Linked DNA regions of Homo sapiens. The protein of the gene in region 2 purifies or fractionates together with the protein of the main gene of each other region. This does not show direct contact. Each region holds a gene or a part of one and is shown on either strand. Other genes may lie near its edges.

Evidence for each region. The genes of interacting proteins can lie anywhere in the genome.
Region 1: the proteins of ZMIZ2 (region 2) and TCF25 purify together in Homo sapiens (affinity purification with mass spectrometry, with the first as the bait; one large-scale study listed by BioGRID). This does not show direct contact.

Annotation. Positions count from the first base shown.
Region 1 is NC_000016.10:89,876,592-89,880,091, forward strand, and holds part of TCF25 (ribosome quality control complex subunit TCF25), read left to right. Parts: intron 1-3,500. UniProt on the Homo sapiens protein: Component of the ribosome quality control complex (RQC), a ribosome-associated complex that mediates ubiquitination and extraction of incompletely synthesized nascent chains for proteasomal degradation.
Region 2 is NC_000007.14:44,751,847-44,755,346, forward strand, and holds part of ZMIZ2 (zinc finger MIZ domain-containing protein 2), read left to right. Parts: intron 1-3,500. UniProt on the Homo sapiens protein: Increases ligand-dependent transcriptional activity of AR and other nuclear hormone receptors.

The DNA.
Region 1 (3,500 bases), on a different chromosome or scaffold from region 2:
AGCAGCCTGGCCAACATGGTGAAACCCCATCTCTACTAAGAATACAAAAATTGGGCCAGGCGTGGTGGCACATGCCTGTATTCCCAGCACTTTGGGAGGCCGACGTGGGCGGATCATGAGGTCAGGAGATCCAGACCATCCTGGCTAACACGGTGAAACCCCGCCTCTACTAAAGAAGTACAAAAAAATTAGCCGGGTGTGGCGGCGGGAGCCTATAGTCCCAGCTACTCAGGAGGCTGAGGCAGGAGAATGGCGTGAACCCAGGAGGCGGAGCTTGCAGTGAGCTGAGATCGTGCCACTGCACTCCAGCCTGGGCAACAGAGCGAGACTCCATCTAAAAAAAAAAAAAAAAAAAAAAAAATTGGCCAGGCATGGTGGTGGGTGCCTGTAATCCCAGCTACTTGGGAGGCTGAGGCAGGAGAATTGCTTGAACCCAGGAGGTGGAGGTTGCAATGAACTGAGATTGTGCCACCAGGCTCCAGCCCGGGCAATACAGCGAGACTCTGTCTCAAAAAAATAAATAAATAAATAAATAAATAAATCGTAATAATAATTATGGATTTGTCTATTTCTACTTTCAACCCTGTCAGTTTTTGCTGTGTGTGGGTGTGTGTGTGTTTTGGTTTTTTGGAGACAGAGTCTCGCTCTATTGCCCAGGCTGGAGTTCAATGTCACAATTATAACTCACTGTAATCTTGAACTCCTGGGCTCAAACCATCCTCCCACCTCAGCCTCCCAAGTAGGTGGAACTATAAGTGGGTGTCACCACACCTGGCTAATTTTTTCAATTTTTTTTGAAAGCCAGTGTGCTGGGATTATAGATGTGAGCTACCATGCCTGGCCTAGAATCTTTTCTGAACTGATTGGTAATGAAAATAGCAACCTATCAAAATTTGTGGGATGCAACTGAAACGATGATTAGAACTTTATCATCGTAAATTTTAAATTAGAAAAGTGTTTAAAAATCTAGAAATTTACCTGAAACTTCTACCTTAAACTAGAAAAAGAGCAAATTAAACTCAAAATGTGTCGAAGGAAGAAACTAATCAAAGAGGGGAATGCACAGAATAGAGTATGGACACGATGGAGAGAATCGGTGAGACCGAAACTTGGTTCTCTCAAAAGACGAGTTGGCAAAAACTCTAGATTGACTGATGGAGGGAAAAAGGGAAGGTCCAGGTACGTTACCATTTTCAGGGATGGGAGAGGAGTGTTCACAGGTACAGATGGTGCAGATAGTAACGGGCGATAAGGAACTTCTTGCTAATAAATTTTCCAGATTAGACAAATGGGCAAGTTCCTTTAAAGATAAAACTTATCTAAATTGACATGTGAAGAAATAAAAAAATCTGAGCCCTTTTATCTATTAAAGATACTGAATTTTTTAAAGTATAAAACATTCCAGGCTAGGGTTGGTGGCTGACACCTGTAATCCCATCACTTTGGGAGGTCAAGGCAGATCCATCACTTGAGCTCAGGTGTGTGAGACCAGCCTGGGCAATGTGGCAAAACCCCATCTCTACAAACAATACAAAAAAACTGTCCAAGTATAGTGGCACTCACCTGTGGTCACAGCTACTCGGGAGGCTGAGACGGGAGGATGGCTTGAACCCAGGAGGTCGAGGCTGCAGTGAGGTGAGATGACGCCACCGTACTCCAGCCTGGGTGACAAAGTGAGACCCTGTCTCAAAAAAAAAAAAAAGACAACCTCAGGCTGGGTGCGGTGGCTCATGCCGGTAATCCCAGCACTGTGGGAGGCCAAGGCGGGTGGACCACCTGAGGTCAGGAGTTCGAGACCAGCCTGGCCGACATGGTGAAACTCCGTCTCTATTAAAAATCACCATTTTTTTTTTTTTTTTTTTTTTTTAGGAAAAATGGACATTTTCCTCTCCCCCTAAAAAAAGATAAAACTCCTTCCTGGTTATTAACTGAAATGCTGATCGAGCTTTATCCTAAAGAAGATCAGTCGTGGACAAGAACCTTGTGAAATGTTCCCCATTTGAGACCCTAAAACTAATGAAAATCACAGCTTTTGGGTAGGTAATAAGGTGTTTTGTTTTGTTTTTTGAGACGGAGTCTTGCGCTGTCGCCCAGGCTGGAGTGCAGTGGCACCATCTCAGCTCACTGCAAGCTCTGCCTCCTGGATTCACTCCATTGTCCAGCCTCAGCCTCCTGAGTAGCTGGGACTACAGGCGCCCACCACCACGCCCGGCAAGTTTTTTTGTATTTTTAGTAGAGACGGGGTTTCACCGTGTTAGCGAGGATGGTCTTGATCTCCTGACCTCGCCATCTGCCCACCTCTGCCTCCCAAAGTGCTGGGATTACAGGCGTGAGCCACCGCGCCCAGCCAGTAATAAGGTTTGTCTGACGGTGATTGACAGCATTTTAGAGCTGATGCATGGCAGTAGAGATTGCAGCAAATCATGTGTCATCACCAAAACTTCACTGAAGAAGCAAAACTAGGCCTGTCACCCGTGCTGTCTGTGTACACAGATGGGCTTCAGAGCCTGTCACACGTGTTGTCCGTGTACACAGATGGGCTTCGGGGCCTGTCATACGTGCTGTTCGTGTACACAGACGGGCTCCTGGGCCTATCACCCGTGCTGTCCGTGTACACAGATGGGCTTCGGGGCCTGTCACACGTGTTGTCCGTGTGCACAGATGGGCTTCGGGGCCTGTCACACGTGTTGTCCGTGTACACAGACGGGCTTCAGAGCCTGTCACACGTGCTGTTCGTGTACACAGACGGGCTCCTGGGCCTGTCACACGTGCTGTCCGTGTACACAGATGGGCTTCGGAGCCTGTCACACGTGTTGTCCGTGTACACAGATGGGCTTCGGGGCCTGTCACACGTGTTGTCCGTGTACACAGATGGGCTTCGGGGCCTGTCACACGTGTTGTCCGTGTGCACAGATGGGCTTCGGGGCCTGTCACACGTGTTGTCCGTGTGCACAGATGGGCTTCGGGGCCTGTCACACGTGTTGTCCGTGTGCACAGATGGGCTTCGGGGCCTGTCACACGTGTTGTCCGTGTGCACAGATGGGCTTCGGGGCCTGTCACACGTGTTGTCCGTGTGCACAGATGGGCTTCGGGGCCTGTCACACGTGTTGTCCGTGTGCACAGATGGGCTTCGGGGCCTGTCACACGTGTTGTCCGTGTGCACAGATGGGCTTCGGGGCCTGTCACACGTGTTGTCCGTGTGCACAGATGGGCTTCGGGGCCTGTCACACGTGTTGTCCGTGTGCACAGATGGGCTTCGGGGCCTGTCACACGTGTTGTCCGTGTGCACAGATGGGCTTCGGAGCCTGTCACACGTGTTGTCCGTGTACACAGACAGGCTCCTGGGCCTATCATGTGTGCTGTCTTTGTAAACAGTCAGGATCCCAGGACTATCACGCGTGCTGTCCATGTACACAGGCAGGCTCCTGAGCCCATCACACGTGCTGTCCGTGTACACAGATGGGCTTCAGAGCCTGTCACACGTGTTGTCCATGTACACA
Region 2 (3,500 bases):
AGTTACTCAGGAGGCTGAGGCAGGAGAATCGCTTGAACCTGGGAGGTGGAGGTTGCAGTGAGCCTAGATCGTGCCACTGCACTCCAGCCTCGGTGAAAGAGCAAGATTCCATCTCAAAAAGAAAAAAAAAAAATTAAAGATTCATGTGCATTATAAGAAATGACACAGAGAGATTTATTCTGTCCTTTACCCAGTTTGCCCCAATGGTAACATCTTGGAAAACTAGTACAACATTGCACCAGGACACTACACTGATACAGTAAAGAGGTTACAGCCTGTTGCCTTCTATTTTTTTTTTTTGAGATGGAGTTTCACTCTTGCTGCCCAGGCTGGAGTGCAATGGTGCGATCGGCTCACTGCAACCTCCACCTCCTGGGTTCAAATGATTCTCCTGCCTCAGCCTCCTGAGTAGCTGGGATTACAGGCGCCCACCACTACGCCCGGTTAGTTTTTGCCCAGCTAATTCTTATGTTTTTAGTAGAGTTGGGGTTTCACCATGTTGGCCAGGCTGGTCTCGAACTCCTGACCTCAAATGATCTGCCCACTTCAGCCTCCCAAAGTGCTGGGATTACAGGCGTGAGCCACCGTGCCCAGCCTGTTGCCTTCTTATATTCACGCCCACCTTCCTCCTGCCAAAATTACAGAAATGGAGAAGAGATTAGTACCTTTCTCTTTACCCCCACATTTAACCCCTGGCAATCACCAATCTGTTCTCCATTTCCCTAATTTTGGTGTGTCAAGAATGCTAAATAAAGGAATCGTACACCGTGTAGCCTCTTGGGATTGGCTTTTTCCACCGAGCATTAATTCTCTGGAGATTCATCCAGGTTGTTGCATATATCAGTAGTTCATTCCTTTATATTGCATCCGGGCTATGGATGTACCACCGTTGATTTAACTCTTCATCCATTGAAGGACATCTGGGCTGTTTCCATTCCATAGCTCTTGCAAATAAAGCAGTTATAAACATTTGTGTACAGGTTTTTATGTGAACATAAGTTTTCATTTCTCTGAGATAAATGCGTACAAGTGCAGTTGCTGGGTCATAGTAGGGTAGCTGCTTGCTTAGTTCCATATGATACGGCCAGACTGTTTCCCAGAGTGGCTGTACATTTTACATTCCCACTAGTAATGTGTGAGAGATCCAGTTTCTCCTTGCCAGCATTTAGTGATGTCACTATTTTTTATTTTAGCCATTCTGATGGATGTATAGTGATATCTCACTGTGGTTTTAATTTGCATTTCCCCACTGACTAGTGATGCTGAGCATCTTTTCTTATGCTTATTTGCCATCTGTATATTCTCTTTGGCAAAGTGTCTCTTTATGTTTTTTGCTTATTTTCTAATTGGAGTTTTTAATTTTAATTTTTTTTTTTTTTAGTTTTGAGAATTCTTTTTTTGTTTTGTTTTGTTTTTTAAATCATGGTTCACTCTGTCATCCAGGCTAGAGTACAGTGGCATGATCATGTCTCACCCCAGCCTCCACCTTCTGGGGTCAAGTGATCCCTCCACTGCAGCCTCCTGAAAAGCTGGGACCACAGGTGCATGCCACCACGCCCAGCTAATTTTTAAATTTCTTGAGGAGTCGGGGGTCTCACTCTGTTGCCCAGACTGATCTTGAACTCCTGGGCTCAAGCAGTCCTCCTGCCTCGGCCTCCCAAAGTGCTGGGATTATAAGTGTGAGCCACTGTGCCTGGCTGAGAATTCTTTATATGTTCTAGATACTAGTCCTTTGTTGGATATGCAGCTTGCAAATATTTCTCCTGGCCTGTAACTTATCTTTTCATCCTCTTAGCAGGGCCTTTCCCGAAGGAAAAATTTTAATTTTGATGAAGTCCAGTTTATCAGTTTTTTTCTTTTATGGATCATGCCTTTGGTATCAGGTCTAAGAGCTCTTTGGCCTAGATCACAAAGATTTTCTCCTATATATTTTCCTGAATATTTTATAGATTTATGTTTTACAGTTAAATCTATAAACCATTTTGAGTTACTTTCTGTATAAGGTGTGAAGTTTAGGTGTTTTTTGTTTGTTGTTTTGATGCCCAGTTGCTCCATTGTCCCAGCACCATTGGTTGGAAAGGCTGTCCTTCCTCCTTTGAATTGCTCTCGCACCTTTGTCAGACATTGTTTGGGCCTATTTGTGCAAATCAATTTCAGATTCTCTGGTCTCGCCTGTTGGCCCATGGTTCTGTTCCCATGTTGGTACCACACAGTTTTGATTACCATATCTATATTCTAAGTCCTAAAATCTGTGTATGGCTGCTCAAGGCCCCACCCAGCAGTTCTGGGGAGGAGTTTCTGGCTGTTGGCAGGTTCCTCTGTCCCCCAACATCACTATTCCTGAGTCAGGCTATGGGACTGGGATTGCCACCCCTACCTTGCCTGGCTGGGCCATCTCAGCTCCCAGGCCTGTTCTTGCCTAGAGTCCAGGTGCCTGGAGCCTTCTGGAGCCATCAGCCCCTGGTTTTCTTCACCCCTGCTTCCTGGGCAGGACTTGGTCTGGGGGAGCAAGGGGAGGAGCCTATGGGCTGGGAATCAAGTCTTGCCTCCCCTGAGGGTGTGAGGAAGTCCAGAACACTGCCCTCTCCCTCTTCCCTAATTGGTACCCCCCAGTCCCAGTGCTCGGTGATGGGAAGATCCAGTGAAAGGCCACATGCTTAGACTCCCCAGGCAGAGCTCAGCTCTACTTCTCACCTGCTCTGGGGCCCTGGGCACACAGCTCGCCCTCAGAATCTCCAGGTCTATATTTTGAGGGGTGAGGCTGTTCCTACCTCCATTGGTGAGGCCCTCGGTCAGCACAAGAAATGGCAGCCTAGATGAATGCGGGGCCACCCTCTCCTGGGGCAGGGAGAGGCCATGTGAGTGCTGCGATGGCAGGATGGCACCAGTGGTCAGCACGCCTCAGGTGGCATGTCTGTGTGTGTGGCAGCCTTGTAGGCCCTAAAAGGGAGTAGTATCCAAGGCGAGCATGCCTGGGGACTCCTGAGAAACAGCTGAAGCGGCCTCTCCTGTGCTGCAGCCAGTGTTCCTCTGTGGATAGCCTAGGCAGGCAGAGGTGGACATGTCAGGTGGTCCTGGGAGTGTCAGAACCCAGGGTAGTGCCAGTGAGGGCCCTTCAGGGACACTCAGGGGCAGGGCTCCAGGGCATGTCTGGGCCTGCTTTGGTAAGGGGCTTGCTTGTGGCAGTGTCGGAAGGCGTGGCACTCAGAAGCAGCCTGAAGGTGTGGTCACTTCCGTGGCTTATTTACTAAATGGGGAGAGCAAACTTAGCGTGGCACATGTAAGTCCCATGGTGCCAGCACTGTGGTCCTGCATGCGTCCTCCCTGACACACCCCCTCTGCTGCCCTGTCCTGAGCACCAGGTCACTGGTATCCACTCAGCCCCATCTTGCAGAGTCACTTCAATGTCTCCCCAGCCCCTTTCTTAGAAACACTGGCCAAGTCACAGTCCCTGCCAGGTCTGTGGGTGCCCACCCTCCATCTATTGTGCTGTGTGTCCC